2 separate regions of the Homo sapiens genome follow, and region 2 is linked to region 1. The links come from fine-mapping of genetic effects on gene expression. Tissue or cell type: whole blood. Region 1 holds a variant in brackets; the other region holds the start of a gene. All regions are shown on one strand. Distances are between the middles of the regions.

Evidence for each region. PIP is the estimated chance that this variant, and not a neighbour inherited with it, causes the effect.
Region 2: SKAP2 starts here. The variant in region 1 is fine-mapped to the expression of SKAP2 in whole blood (INTERVAL, PIP above 0.99).

The regions. Positions count from the first base shown.
Region 1 is chr7:26,899,644-26,907,752 of GRCh38, reverse strand. No RefSeq gene overlaps it. Among named protein-coding and RNA genes, the nearest start is that of SKAP2, 39 kb to the right of the region's middle. The variant G/A (reference allele first, on the strand shown) is at 4,606.
Region 2 is chr7:26,859,619-26,867,712 of GRCh38, reverse strand. It overlaps SKAP2 (src kinase associated phosphoprotein 2), which reads left to right and starts at 3,123. Exons shown (of 13, transcript NM_003930.5): 1 at 3,123-3,350. The coding sequence starts at 3,284. RefSeq lists an enhancer at 2,556-2,885.

The sequences.
Region 1 (8,109 bases):
TAAACTATCCAAAGCTTTGTGAATTATAATAATATCTATTATTTCTCACAGTTTTGTGGGTTGACTGTGTATTTCTTCCATCAAAAAAGATAGCTAGATTGTCTAGGATGGTTCCACACATGTCTGGTGATTGTTCTATGTCTGGTGAAGTGATAGCCATGTATCTATCATCATTAGTAGGGCTAGTTCAGGCTCATCCATATGGTACAAACTCATAGTGCACAAAGTCATCGTGGTACAAAGTCACATATGCAAATTTGTGGGCCACCTTTCACAGTCTACCACAATTCTTTTCTTTTCACTTCAGTTTTGCTTATCTTCTTTATTCTAGTACTGAGGGGAATTCACTTTATTAACAGCTTGATTGGTTACCTTACCAATCATTGACTTTCTTATTATGCTACCTAATCAAGACTGTGTGAAGATTTACTAATACTGTGCATTTGGCATAATAGTTGTTCATGACTTCATCAAACTATGTTTCTTTGGATCTTTATGGTGAGTTTAACTCTTCCTTTTATTTGAGAATTCCATACTCAAAATCATTGAGTATAGAATTATTAGTCTTGGAATTAAGTCTTAGTCTTAGTTCTTAGCCTTCATTATTTGAGTTCTAGTTGAGTTAAAACTGTTATACTTTGAGGGGCATGGTTTACCACTCACAAGCTTTTATACTCCTTTCTTTATTATTACAGAACTGATATTTTCCATAAGATTGATCTTGCCATTAAGATGAATACTGAATACAACTATGAACTTGAAGAATTGACTATAGTAGAGTGAATGAAATTTCAAATTATATATATATATAATGTGTGTGTGTACATATATATATGTATATGTACACACACACACACACACACACACATATATACATATATATGTTCTGTTTTCTCTGCACTGGGAGTAGCAGTTCCAGAGGAGAAGGGAGTTTGAGAGAGATCAATTTTGGGAGTGGGAAATGGAATTATATTTTGAGGAAAGTATCTCCTTAAGGCTTTTGCATTCTTAAATCTGTCAGAGGAGCCATTTATTCTCTCATAAATCTGTAATGATACACAGTTGCACATAATGGTTTGTAATTTCCTTTGGTCAGCAAAGAGAAAAATGAAAGAAGTAAACAAGTACATGAACCCAGTAATGTCCACCCAATATTTCATAATAGCCCCCGAGATGGTAAACCTAAATGATCTTGCTTGCTGAAAATCATGGCAATATTTGAGAGGATGAGTTTCCAGTCATAAATGGAACACAAATAATGAGATGATTTCTTCTGCCCTGAATAACCTGAAATATTAGCTACAATTTCCTTCAACTTGTGAGCCTTCTGCATTCATACAGCCCTGTAATAGAGTACTCAGTGTCAATGCCCATTTCCTATACTGATCATATAAAAAAACTTAACATGTTTATAAACTGAAAGCTTCAACCAAAAGTTTGACATTGTTTCACTGAACTCTCAAATTCATATCTTATCATTTCAAGATAACTTTTCTATGTTCCTCCCTCAAAAATGAAGAGTTTATGTTAGAATAAATAAATTTTATACAAAAGTGTCTGTTGAAACCAAGATGTATTTTTATATCCATGTTATTATTAAGAATGATATGTAAAAAAATCAACCTAACTACCTGAAGAAATTATTTTGTTAAGTAGTTACTAGGACTGATGTATGATAAACTCACTATCATCTGAAGGGTAAACTATTTACTCATTTTCCATGAGCAGTTTACAGCCAGTAAGAGGTTTTTTTGACTTCATATCAGATACGTGAATACTACCAACATTCCTTGAATGCCTGATGCCTCTGATCTAGAATACTTAAATTTCCTTCTTACTGATGTTTCTTTTTTTCTTTCTTTCTTTCCTTCCCTTCCTTCCTTCCTTCTTTGTTTCCCTTTTTTTTTTTTTTTTTTGGCAGAGACAGGGTTTTGTTCCATCACTCAGGCTGGAATGTAGTAGTGTGATCATAGCTCGCAGTAACCTTGAACTCCTGGGCTTAAGCATTTCTCCCACCTCAGCTTCTCAAAGTAGCTAGGACTATAGGCATGCACCACCATGCCCGGCTAATTTTTTTTTCTTTTTTTTGAGTGACACAGGTCTTGCTATGTTGCCCAGGCTGGTCTTGAACTCCTAGCTTCAAGTGATCCTTCCTCCTCAGCCTCCCAAAATTCTGGGATTACAGGCACGAGTCACAGTGTCTGGCCTTGATCTTTCTTACTTTATTTTTTGACTACCACCAAACCATTTCATGTATTGCTATCAGAATAGTTTTTCTTAAGCTGTCATTATTGCTTATGGAATAAAGCCCAAATTTCCTATTTGGCGTTCAGACTCTCTATTAGCAGGTATAAATCCATCTATTTTCACCTTTATCTTAATGTAATAATTTCAGAAATAAGGTTAACCCTAGCTCAGCTATAAAGTTTTTTTGTTTTGTCTAGAGCTGACTGATGCTTGTTTACTGAAGGTGCTGAGCACTTTACCTAACATAAGGAAAAAATAGACTCATTTTAAGTAGGCAAAGTCATGCAATCAGGTTTTTTGTTGTTTTTTTTAAATTTTTTTTTATTATTATACTTTAAGTTTTAGGGCACATGTGCACAATGTGCAGGTTAGTTACATATGTATACATGTGCCATGCTGGTGCACTGCACCCACTAACTCGTCATCTAGCATTAGGTATATCTCCCAATGCTATCCCTCCCCCCTCCCCCCACCCCACAACAGTACCCAGAGTGTGATGTTCCCCTTCCTGTGTCCATGTGTTCTCATTGTTCACTTCCCACCTATGAGTGAGAATATGTGGTGTTTGGTTTTTTGTTCTTGCGATAGTTTACTGAGAATGATGATTTCCAATTTCATCCATGTCCCTACAAAGGACATGATCTCATCATTTTTTATGGCTGCATAGTATTCCATGGTGTATATGTGCCACATTTTCTTAATCCAGTCTATCATTGTTGGACATTTGGGTTGGTTCCAAGTCTTTGCTATTGTGAATAGTGCCGCAATAAACATATGTGTGCATGTGTCTTTATAGCAGCATGATTTATAGTCCTTTGGGTATATACCCAATAATGGGATGGCTGGGTCAAATGGTATTTCTAGTTCTAGATCCCTGAGGAATCGCCACACTGACATCCACAATGGTTGAACTAGTTTACAGTCCCACCAACAGTGTAAAAGTGTTCCTATTTCTCCACATCCTCTCCAGCACCTGTTGTTTCCTGACTTTTTAATGATTGCCATTTGGTTTTGATTTGCATTTCTCTGATGGCCAGTGATGGTGAGCATTTTTTCATGTGTTTTTTGGCTGCATAAATGTCTTCTTTTGAGAAGTGTCTGTTCATGTCCTTCGCCCACTTTTTGATGGGGTTTTTTTTTCTTGTAAATTTGTTTGAGTTCATTGTAGATTCTGGATATTAGCCCTTTGTCAGATGAGTAGGTTGCAAAAATTTTCTCCCATTTTGTGGGTTGCCTGTTCACTCTGATGGTAGTTTCTTTTGCTGTGCAGAAGCTCTTTAGTTTAATTAGATCCCATTTGTCAATGTTGTCTTTTGTTGCCATTGCTTTTGGTGTTTTAGACATGAAGTCCTTGCCCATGCGTATGTCCTGAATGGTATTGCCTAGGTTTTCTTCTAGGGTTTTTATGGTTTTAGGTCTAATGTTTAAGTCTTTAATCCATCTTGAATTTATTTTTGTATAAGGTGTAAGGAAGGGATCCAGTTTCAGCTTTCTACATATGGCTAGCCAGTTTTCCCAGCACCATTTATTAAATAGGGAATCCTTTCCCCATTGCTTGTTTTTCTCAGGTTTGTCAAAGATCAGATAGTTGTAGATATGTGGTGTTATTTTGTTTTGTTTTGTTTTTGAGATGGAGTTTTGCTCTTGTCGCCCACACTGGAGTGTAGTGGCATAATCTAGGCTCACTGCAACCTCCACCTCCTGGGTTCGAGTGATTCTCCAGCCTCGGCCTCCTGAGTAGCTGAGATTACAGGCACCTGCCACCATGCCTGGTTAGTTTTTGTATTTTTAGTAGAGATGGGGTTTTTCCGTGTTGGCCAGGCTGGTCTCAAACTCCTGACCGCCCACCACAGCCTCCCAAAGTGCTAGGATCACAGGCGTGAGCCACTGAGCCCGGCTTCATCAGGCGTTTTGTTTCGTTTTGTTTTGTTTTTGTTTTTTTGAGATGGAGTTCTGCTCTTGTTGCCCAGGTTGGAGTGCAGTGGTGCCATCTTGGCTCACCACAACCTCCACCTCTCAGGTTCAAGCGATTCTCCTGCCTCAGCCTCCCAAATAGCTGGGATTACAGGCATGTGCCATCACACCTGGCTAATTTTGTATTTTTAGTAGAGATGGGATTTCTCCATGTTGGTCAGGATGGTCTCGAACTCCCAACCTCAGGTGATCCACCCATCTCGGCTTCCCAAAGTGTTGGGATTACAGGCGTGAGCCACTGTGCCCTGCTCATCAAGTTTTTAATGGGTCTGAGGATTCTGTATCATGTCAATCTGTAAGGCCTAGCACTGCTCAGGGCCTTCTCTGCAGTTTAGATTCAACAAATACCTATTAGGAGTTCATTATGTGTCAGACATTTTGCAC[G/A]TAACATTATATTGTAATCCTCAAAACAGTCTTGTCAGGTTTTATCACAGTTCATATAATAGTATCACAATTTTTACATAAGGAATTTGAGCTCAGAGAAGGTAAAAAAATATACCCAAAGTTTCATGACTGCTCAGAGTGGAACCAGAATTTGAATAGCATTTTCCTGAATCTACAATCTATGTTCTTTTCCCTTTATCACAGCTGTGGCATAAATTCAACATTGTGCTGTTTTCGTTCATCCCAGAACCTTCCCATAGTTTTTTTAGGTGACCTTTGCACCAGGATGACCTTGGGAGGTAACAGCCCAATGAATGAATTTTTTAGAGTTACTGTGTTCCAGAGACTTCCTCTCATATATGGGAGGCTCTGGATTGTTCTTTCTCATGTGGTCAGGACTACATGTTGCATGATGACAAACAGATGCTTTCTTCTTGACACTATGTCTTGTCTGGGTATTTAAAGAGTGACAGTGATAATGAAGATTAACCTGCAGTAATGCTGCACATGTACTACTTTACGAGGTCAGAGTTCACAGTCTTCAGCGTATTCACTGATGTTGCTAATGATGCTGTAAGTAGAAATGAATACAGGCCATGCATTCAAAAGACATTCCTTATATTATCCTTTAAGTTAAGGATTTCTAAGACATTTGAGATATTCTACTGGGTTTTGGGTCTATAAGAATAATTGAAATAGACCTTGAAGTCTTTAGTTAATCGTAAAGGAGCCTTTTCCCACCTACCTCCCAAATAGTTGTATCTTTTCTCTTTCCTTTTCTTTTCTTTTTTTGGAGATGGAGTCTTGCACTGTAGCCCAGGCTGGAGTGCAGTGGCGCCATCTCGGCTCATGGCAACCTCCGCCTCCTGGGTTCAAGCAATTCTCCTGCTTCAGCCTTCCCAGTAGCTGGAACTACAGGTGTACGCAGCCACGCCTGGCTAATTTTTTGTATTTTTAGTAGAGATGGGGTTTCACTGTGTTGCCCAGGCTGGTCTCGAACTCCTGAGCTCCGGCAGTCCGCCTGCCTCGGCCTCCCAAAGTGCTAGGATTACAGGCGTGAACCACTGCGCCCGGCCCCAAATAGTTGTATCTTACAGGATAAAAATTTTGTGGAAGCTCTTTAAAAGTAAACAGAGAATGTTTGGTCATAGAAATATCAAATACTAATAAGGAACACCTAAGCACTTTAGGTGCATTGGAAAAATATTTAACTTGTTGAAGCCAAATTTCAAGTATATTGGACTTCTAGACTGTGGTTTGGTTTTAATTTTGTATTCCCAAGCCAAAAAAATTTTTTTTTTAAATAGGAAACTCTTTTTAATCTATATACTCCCTGAATTGTTTTTCTATATATTTTGATTATATGTCTCAAAAGCTGAAAAGGGCCTGAAATTGTATCCTATTTGCAAGCTAAGTTAGCCTGTCAGTTTCATGGGTGCTGGCAGAAGATATAATACTCCTGGGTTATATATACTCCTTGGTTATATAATAAACCAAGGACAGTTTATTACTTATAGCATTAACAGTAGACAGAATATCAGCATTTATACCAGCCCCTTAAACCTCAAATACTGCCTGGCAATGTAAAGAGGAGCAGGTGATATTTGCACATGCAACGGGGAGTATTATAAATGAAGAACCCTGAGTTCAGAGAACCCAAATCATTTATAATGGGCCATAAGCATGTCTGTCTTTTGCCCTAGGAGACACTGTCTCTATATTCCAGAGCTGAAGGCAAACTTGCCCTTTGCTTCAGAGCAAAACACTACCTGTACCACCCATAGATGATGGCTTGAAACAATAGTCTGGAACAGAGGCAGTCAATGTTTCTGCTTGTAAGACGTGCAGAAATGTGAGAGACCCATGGAGAATTATCTCCCAACATGCAATTTCTGGAGTCCCAAGAAACTTTGGGGAATGCTACCAACTTGACACGTTTAATAGAAATAGAAGACCAGTTATATCCTGTGGTTTCAGGGGTCCTGACCCTCAATTTAACTACATATCTTGTTTTACCATCATAACTTTGCTTCTTCGACTCAAGCTTTAGGTCTGCAAATGAGTCCCTTATCAAATTGCAGCTACTGCTGGAAATATTTCAAATTTATAACTTCATACTTTAGTATACAAAGGCTGGATATCATAGGAGAAGAATATTCCTGGGCTTGGAATTAGATATAGGCTGGAAGCCTAGCTCTGCCACTGACTATACTGATGTTCACTCTTTTGGATTATCAAATAATAAAAAACTAAGCCCCAGCTACTTGGGAGGCTGAGGCAGGAGGATTGTTTGATCCCAGGAGTTCGAGGCTGTCGGGAGCTGATTGCACCCCCTGCACTCCAGCCTGGGTGACAGAACAAGACCCCATCTCTAAAAACAAACAAACAAAAAATAAAAGAAAAGAAAACAAATTAACAAAAACTAGAAAACATGGAGAAATGCTATTAAATTTCTGAGAAAAAATACTTAGCAAAATAAAACTCTATACCTATCTAAATATGAGGGTAAATGTGTTTTCAGATATGTAAAGTCTCAACAAAGTTACTGCCCTTGTACCATTTTTTCAAGAAAGTGTGGGAAGATATGTTCCATTAAGATGAAGAAGTAAAATCAGAAAGAGGAAGTCATGGAATAGAAAAGACAAGGGATCTAATACAGGAGAGAGGCAAAGGATCTGGATCTTTGCCAGGATGCTGGCAAAGGAAAGCCCCATAATGGCAGATATCCAGCATCCTAGAAAACAGTCCAGAATTTAATAGAAGGACAGGAAAGTCCATATGGATGTCTCCAAGAAACAGATTAAGCTGATAGATTGCATGAAGTGTTTGACTATCTTGAGAAGAGTTTTCAGTCCAATGGAGCATTTGAGAATGAGTTTATGACAGCTATGTAGAAAATCAAGCAACCAAAAATAATAGACACAAATATAAACTCTTGGGAAATAAAGTTGTGTAAGAAATGTAATTACAATATACTCCAAAACTGAGATGTAAATAATGTTAATAGATTCATAGTTATATAAGCTTTAATTGTGGATTTAGCCCAAATGGATGCCATAATTATGTTGGAAAGATGGAGAAGGGGAAATATGTATGTGTTTTGGGTGTGTGTGTCAGGCGGGGGGTTATATTAAAAGAGGTAACCCATATTCCATAGAATGAAGTAAATTAAATAATGTTTAAAATTCAAAAATCAAGAAATAACTGTATAACCACATTATTAGAAAATGGATGTAAACATCAAAAGAAATAGCTAAAAAAAAATTAAAAGTGGTTACCATAAGGAATCAGGAATAGGAGCTGAAGGGGAGTTTGGCTTGGGGACTGCTTTTTTCTCATGTTTTATTTTTAAAATTATGTACATGTATTACTTTGATAAAAATAAAAATTAACTTTAAAATGTAATGCATTAATTGGCTCATTGCCAGTTAAATGTTTAGTAGAGATTAGTTGAAATTATAAATGGGATGATGCCTAGTGGAATGGAGGAGGCATATACCAAAG
Region 2 (8,094 bases), 40 kb after region 1:
ATGACTATCTATGGCAACTATAGCCATATAATATATATATATATGTATATATATATGTATATATAGGTATATATATGTATATATATGTATATATATATGTGTGTATATATATATGTATATATATGTATATATATGTGTGTATATATATATATATATATTTTTTTTTTTTTTTAAGATAGGGTCTCATTTGTGGCCCAAGCTGGAGTTCACTGGCACAGTCATACCTCCCTGTAATCTTGAACTCCTGGGCCCAAGGGATCCTTACATCTCACCTTCATGAGTAGCTAGGACTACAGGCACACACCACCACACCTGGCTAATTATTCTTTTTTTTTTTTTTTTTTTTTTTTTTTTTGTAGAGATGGGGTGCCACTATGTTGCCCAGGCTGGTCTTGAACTCTTGGCCTCAAGTGATCCTCCTGCCTCAGCCTCCCAAAGTGCTGGGATTACAGGTGTAACCCACCATGGCCAGCCATGAAATGTATTTTTTAAATAAGACTTGAAAGTTGAAACTACTCTTTGATCCATGGGCAGCAGAATGGATGTGGTACTAGCAGGCATGAAAACATTAATCTTCTTGTATATCTCCATCAGAGCTCTTGGGTGACCAGGTGCATTGTCAATAAGCAGCAATATTTTGAAAGGCATCTTTTTTTCTGAGCAGTAGATCTCAACAGTGTGCTTAAAATACTCAGTAAATCATTCTGTAAACAGATGTGCTGTCATCCAGGCTTTGTTGTTCCACTTATAGAGCACAGGCAGAGTAGATTTATCATAATCCTTAAGGGCCCTAGGATTTTCAGAATGGTAAATGAGCATTGGCTTCAACTTAAAGTCAGCAGCTGAAATAGTTCCTAAGAAGAGAATCAGCCTGTCCTTTGAAGCTTTGAAGCCAGGCATTGACTTCTACTCTATAGCTACGAAAGTCCTAGATGGCATTGTTTTCCAATAAGTGTTGTTTCATCTACACTGAAACTCTTTGTTTAGTATAGCCACCTTCATCAGATATCTTAGCTAGATTTTTTTTTTTTTTTTTTTTTTTTTGAGATGGAGTCTCGCTCTGTCGCCCAGGCTGGAGTATAGTGGCGCAATCTTGGCTCACTGCAAACTCTGCCTCCTGGGTTCACGCCATTCTCCTGCCTCAGCCTCCCGAGTAGCTGGGACTACAGGCGCCTGCCACCACACCCGGCTAATTTTCTTTTTTTTTTGTATCTTTTTTTTAGTAGAGACGGGGTTTCACTGTGTTAGCCAGGATGGTCCCGATCTCCTGACCTCATGATCCGCCCGCCTCATCCTCCCAAAGTGCTAGGATTACAGGCATGAGCCACTGCACCTGGCCTTAGCTAGATCTTTTTGATAACTTGCTGCAGCTGCTTCACCAGCATTTGCTGCTTCACCTTACAATTTTATGCTCTGAAGATGGCTTATTTCCTTAAACATCATGAACCAACCTCTGCTAACTTCCAACTTTTCTTCTGCAGCTTCTTTACCTCTCAGCCTTCGTAGACTTGAAGAGAGTTAGGGCCTTGCACTCGATTAGGCGTTGGCTTAAGGGAATGTTATGTCTGGTTTGATCTTCTATCCAGAACATGAAAACGTTTCTTTACCAGCAATAAGCCTCCTTCGCTTTCTTATCATTCGTGTGTTCACTGGAGTAGCATTTTTACTTTCCTTCAAGGACTTTTCCCTTGCATTCACTACCTGGCTGTTTGGTGCAAGAGCCCTAGCTTTTGGTCTGTCTCGGCTTTCAATATGCCTTCCTCACTAAGCTTAATCATTTCTAGCTTTTGATTTAAAGTAAGCTTTTGATTTAAAGTAAAATGATTCTTTTACTGGAACACTCAGAGGCCATCGTAGGGTTATTAATTGGCTTAATGTCAATATTGTTGTGTCTCAAGGAATGGGGAGGCCCAAGAGAGGGAGAGATATGGAGGAAGGTATAGGGTTGGTAGAGCAGTCAGAACACACACATTTATGGATTACAGTCGCTGTCTTATATGGGTGCTGTTTGTGATGTCCCAAAGTAATTATAATAGTAACTTCAAAGATCACCATAACATATACAATAATAATGAAAAAGTTTGAAATATTGTTAGAATCACCAAAATGTGACAGAGACATGAACTGAGCACATGCTTTTGGAAAAATGGCGCCCACAGATTTGCTTGATGCAGGGTTGCCACAAACCTTCAATTTGTTAAAAAATGCAATATCTGGGAAGCACAAAGATGTATGCCTGTTAAAGGTTTTAAAGAAGCCATTTTTTTTAAAAGAGAAAACTTTTAAGAAGCTTTACAGATAGAAGACAGTAAGTATTTGTTGACTAAATGGTCAAGTTGGAGTGAGCAGATTTTATAATTTTATTCTACTAACCACCACCAGCAATTTTATTTTTGATGCTTGTAGATGGACAGTGGTGCCAATGTCTATTCGGCCTTCTGTTTTTTTGTTTTGTTTTGTTTGTTTTTTCCTGCCAAAGGACGGTGCTTAGAACTTCCCAGTCTTCCTTGTAGTGGGGAAAATCTGTCACCCCAAGGATACGAATTAGGTAGAAAAGTAATGTAAGAGCCAATCACAACGCGCGCTCCGGAGCGGCTCCAGACTGGCTTCGCCCGGACGACTGGCGGAAGACGAGACTTCGTTACCTCCGTTCAATCGGACAAAGAAGGCCATAATAGTTTAGGACAAGAGAAAATTCCTTGTGGGTTAAACTGCGGTGGGACTGACTGTTACGCAGAAGGCGTAATCGCAAAACTTGTATACACTCTGTATCATGGATACATTATTTTCTGGAATCCTGCAGAAACGATCAGCAGTTGTGATGGCACCAGTACCGAAAATGGCTGTAAGGCGCTCCGGACGCTGGATCAGGTGACGCAGCATCAGGTGACGCAGCCTCAGTCCGCCCCCTTCCCACCAGTGGCTCCTCCTCCTGCTTCCCGGCGTAGCGGTGGGCGTGGCTTGCCCACAGGCTCTTTCTTCTGGGGCCGGGAAAACCGAGGAATACACATGCGCAGTTGGACCCCTCAGGCCCTTCGTGTCCCTTCCCACCCATCTCCCCGCCCCGGCCCTCTGGGCGGGGCTGGGCCGACAGTCCAGCTGCAGCTCGCTGGAGATTCAGTGACTTCCTTGTTGTGAGCCCCGGCCCGGCAGTGTCCCGACTCGTAGCCCCGCTGTTCTTAATCCGGGCCGCTAGCCTGAGTCTAGGTCGCAGCCGCAGCCCCACCCCGTCGGTCACCTTTTCAGCGCAGGTCCTTTCCCCGCACGCCCTGCGCTCCCTAACATGCCCAACCCCAGCAGCACCTCCTCTCCCTACCCCCTCCCTGAGGAAATTAGGAACCTGTTGGCAGGTAAAGAGCGGGAAGGCGGCGATAATGCTGTCGGGGCGGGGGCGAGGGAACGGTGAGCCGGTGGGGACAGAAGCATTCAGAGCCCTTATCCTCCCTCCCCGCGCTTCCCACGTCTTCTAGCCAGTGGGGTCGGCACAGGGAGGAGAGGAGAGGGGTTGTTTTGTCTCAGAAAGGGAGTGGACGTGTGTGTTGAAATTTGGTGCGGGGATGGTGGCGAAGCCCTTTTTGGTGATCTACACAAATGGGATCAGGACGTTTCTATGTGCATTGTGAAGACGGTGTGTGTGTGTGTGTGTGTGTGTGTGTGACAGAAGGGCGGGGGAGGAAGAGTGGAAGAGGGAGAGAGAATGATAATGATAATGAATGCTGCGTGAGCAAGCAGAAGGGAGCAGAAGTCAAATAAGTAGTTCTTGGGTGGTCTGGCCAATGGAGGTAGAGGATGTAGAGATGCAAAGAGCTGTCAGAGCCACAGGTGTTAGGGGTTATGGGGTGAAAGAGTTTGTCATTTCTAAAACTCCCGTTTTTCTTAAACATTCAGCTCACTCACGTTTAAGACTTTTGAAGAAGGTCTGGTTCTCAAATGGCCACTTGTCCCCAGCCTCAGTAATATATTAAAGCAAAAAAGGAAGGATATGTTAAAGTTCTACTTCCTGTGTGACACGATGAAAGTACTTCATCTTTGTACCCTTATCTTCCCTTTTTCAGTTTTACATTACCATTTATAGGAACTTATTTTAGGAGCTAAAAACGTGGTTCTTCAGTAGCATTATGAATCCACTACTAGTTCATTAATTTACTGGATACGGAGGTGTGTATGTTCACTAAGAACCAATAATTTATATTTCTGTACAAGGTAGAAAATATATGTTTTTAAGGTAGCACAAATCTTACCTATCTCAATGTTCTGGAATTTCAACCATCATTTATTTTGTCTTGTGTACGTCAGAATTCTGGAAACTGAATTTTGATTTTTAGTTTTAGATGTCTATAAAATATTTATCTCTCAGTATTGCTTATGAATAACTAGATTACAGATTGCTTATTCTAGCTCTTAAAAAGCAATGTCATCTAAAATGTGACATTTGATGACACATTTTATATGTTACTCCTATAGCAATGTGAGTCCAAATCTCCTAATATTCTGTCATTCAATTTTGGTGCTTGGCATTATTAATATGGTAGTGTAATATTAAGTGTATGAATGTAGACTTATGTTTGTATGATTATGGTACAGTATGTTGAATGCATTTGTGGTGGGATAGTCTTTCACTCTAAGAAATGCTTGTTGTCATTAACGGGTACCACTAAGGGAAATAGTTAAAGAAGTCTAAAGACTGACTTCAGGCAGCTTTATTGCATCACATGACTACTGATTTTGTTTTACTACACTTAACATTTTTTGTTTTTACAATGCTGGAATTGTTTGTTCAGAATATTATTGTAATAACCAGCGCAGAAAAATGTTTATCATTATTCCAAAAATAGATGAAACCATTTTCAGGATATTCTATGTCTGTATTTTTGAATTTAAGAAATAACATATAGACCTCTGGGTGCATGTTTTAAAGCTTGGTACCTCCCATAGTACAGTTTGTTATTTGGATCCATAATCATAAATCACAGATAATATGATATGTAGGTCATGAGAACCTTTATTCTCTTATCCCCATAGATCACAAGTATTTCCTGTGGCCCTTATTTGTGTAATTTAACTAAAAACTCAAAATTACATATTTAAATTATCTGCCAATGCTAACTTCCAATATATTTCTGCCTTCTCTCTTTAGTCAGGTAATATACTAGCATAGCATCTGAAATTATTTTAAGTCATTTTATTGACATTTTCACTATTTTATATTATTAAAGCAAATCACATATTAAAACACACATGAAGTATTAAAAAATATTACAATTAAAACTTTTGGAATTGGAAATTTGGATTACACTTTATTTTCAGAGGATATTTTCAAGAAGTATGGAAGTGAGTTGGGGCGTATTTATGTTTAAAGAAATTTAACAAATCAGTGTTTTTCAGGTTTTAAAAAAACTTATTTGGAAAGTTGCTAACATTTTATGTTTGACTGTAATTAAAATCTTTTTTGAGGTAGAGAACGCTTCAAGAATAGATGCTGTCAGCAATTGTTTCATGTATTTCATCTAAAAATATTGTTAGCATTGTACATGATTCTTTTCATAATTCAAGTGTATTGGGTAATAGTATATGACTAGATTTAGAGTAACATTATAGAAGTATTTATATTGGTTTGAATATTAGAGATATTGCTGGCTTATTTAGTCTATTTCTTTGAAACTGAGGAGATATTGGTAATGGTGTTGTAGTTAACAGTTGAGTGCTCTTAGAATGCATGGTACTATGCTAGAATTCCAAGGTAGAGAAGATAAGGAACTAAACTTTTCAGGGGTTTAAAGTCCTTTGTTTTTAGAAAGAAGAATATATAATCAAAAGATAATGACTGTTAAAATAATGTTGCTTAGATGTATCTGTTTGTGTTCCATATGCCTATTAAACTAAATCATTATATGTCATATGTACTGTTTGAAATTTCACCTGCTTAAAAGGGATAGGTACTCAAGTGTATTCTTATTTATTATTTTTCTTTCTCTTTATTTTTCTGTCTGATTATGGCAGTTCTATGCTATACTTTCAACATTTGTTCCCTCTCCCTTTTTCCTTCCCCTATAAAAACCATTCCATAGAAATGTAAAAAAAAAAAAAAAAAAAAAAAGAGGTTGTTATTGTTAACTCACATGTGTTGTGTAAAGATACCATTGAAAAAGTGGCTATCTAGTTTGATTTTTAGTTATATTTTCTGTGGAGTCAGTCTTGAAGACCTATGCTTTTTATAAAATGTTGATTATTCTTTTGGTTATATGAACAGAAAAGGACTTACAGAATTTCGTTGTTGAAAGCAAATTTTGAGCTGCCATATGCATTACAGGCAACCTTTGATTTTTTTCTTTTCTACAACAATGGAAAAACAGGTTTAGCCTGGATAATTGAAATCAAAGGACAATCCCAAATCTTGTCCATTTAATCTTCTCTCACATCCAAATATTTTGACTAGGACTAGCAGCAAGAATAATCTTGATTTATGTGATTTTTTTTTTTCTCTAGACAGGCAAGAAAGTAAGAGGAACTAGAACCACTTCCCTCCAGCCTCCTTCATTTGTTTAATCACCCTTTAAATAATGGTTTGTTAGTGGCTTGCAATCAGACCTTCTCATTCATCCTCATTCATTTGTTTTAGGACAACAAATTTTAAAAGGAAAGCTCTAAGAAGATGTTATTTTCTGTTTACTAAATTAGCAAATGAAACCATTGTTAAAAGAAGAAAATAGTGATTGTTAGTGCTCTGAAAAATCAAACCAAACCAAACAAACAATAAATAAGTGATCTTGAGGTTTTGTTCACATGGCACTCTTGATTAGAAATACCACATTTTCCCTACTGGGAATTTTTAGAACATTAGAAAATTTTTTCCCACACATTGATTATAATGTGTGAATATTTTTTTCACACAATATTATTTAGGGTATGTAATCAGTCCCCTAAAGGGATTCCTGTAGGGGCACTAGGTGAAGAGTGCAATTTATTTGAAATAGAGGCAGAATTTTTTCAATGCTGAGTATATTACGGTTTAATTTCCACCTTTCCAAAGTTCCATTTATAATTTGGTCAACATTTTGGTTTTATTTTTCCTATGAGAATTATTTATGGTGTATCTAGTGTCCCATAACTTCCTTCTGGGACATTGGCTGAGTATGTAAAGGGAAGAGTGCCACCTACTGAGTCACCAATAGTCACCTACCTCCTTAGCACCTGGGTTTTCCTATGGAGCAAGAACAAGCCTGCCCCATTTGGGCAGCAATCACTAAAGAGCATAAAGTTGATATGAGAACATTTAATCTCAAAATGAAATCTATCGTACCTCCAAGATATTCTTTTCTAGAAATAGGAATATATGTAAATTAAGGGACTAGAGGTTTACAGAGTTTTTTGTATGGGCTAAATAATATAGATGAATTAAGATGTGGTGTTAGGAAAATTATTTGCCTATTTTAAGTATATAATGTCCTGCTTTTTCTTGGGAGGAGATCTTTTGGCATGGCTGTCCATTGAAAGTATTTTCATCTCATTACTATATAAGGCTCTTGATACTACGTACAGTTTTTATAGCTACCCAATCCAAATTATCATTGGTTTTCTTCAAAAAGAAGAATCTAAACATATTAAAAAATTAGCATTATATGAAAAATTTGCAAATGGGCTTATTGCTCCTGTTACCAGCATTAAAGTATTACTAGAAAGAAGGTAGACACAACAGAGTAGGAAAAGCTGCTGGTGATTTGAAACACAGTTTAGTTGTCTCATAAATTTCAGATTAAGTGTCATATATGGGTGATAAAAGTGGCATAGGCTAGATTTTATATACTCATGATTCACTTAGTTTGTCTTTTTCAATTAAAGCTAAGTCTCTTTTTCATTCCACTGAATTTACATTTCTTTTTCAATCACATTCTGAACACATTACAATAGATGCTGCCTAAAACTGAATATAGTGTAAATCTCAGACTAATGTGTTATTCACTGTGGCTTCTTTGAAAATATGTAGTAAAAAGATTTTGATTATTGTAAGGTGCTATTTATCAAGAGTCATCTTTTAGGGTTGAAAGATGTTCAGCCCTACCTTTAAACAGCCCAGCTTTCTATCAAAATACATCA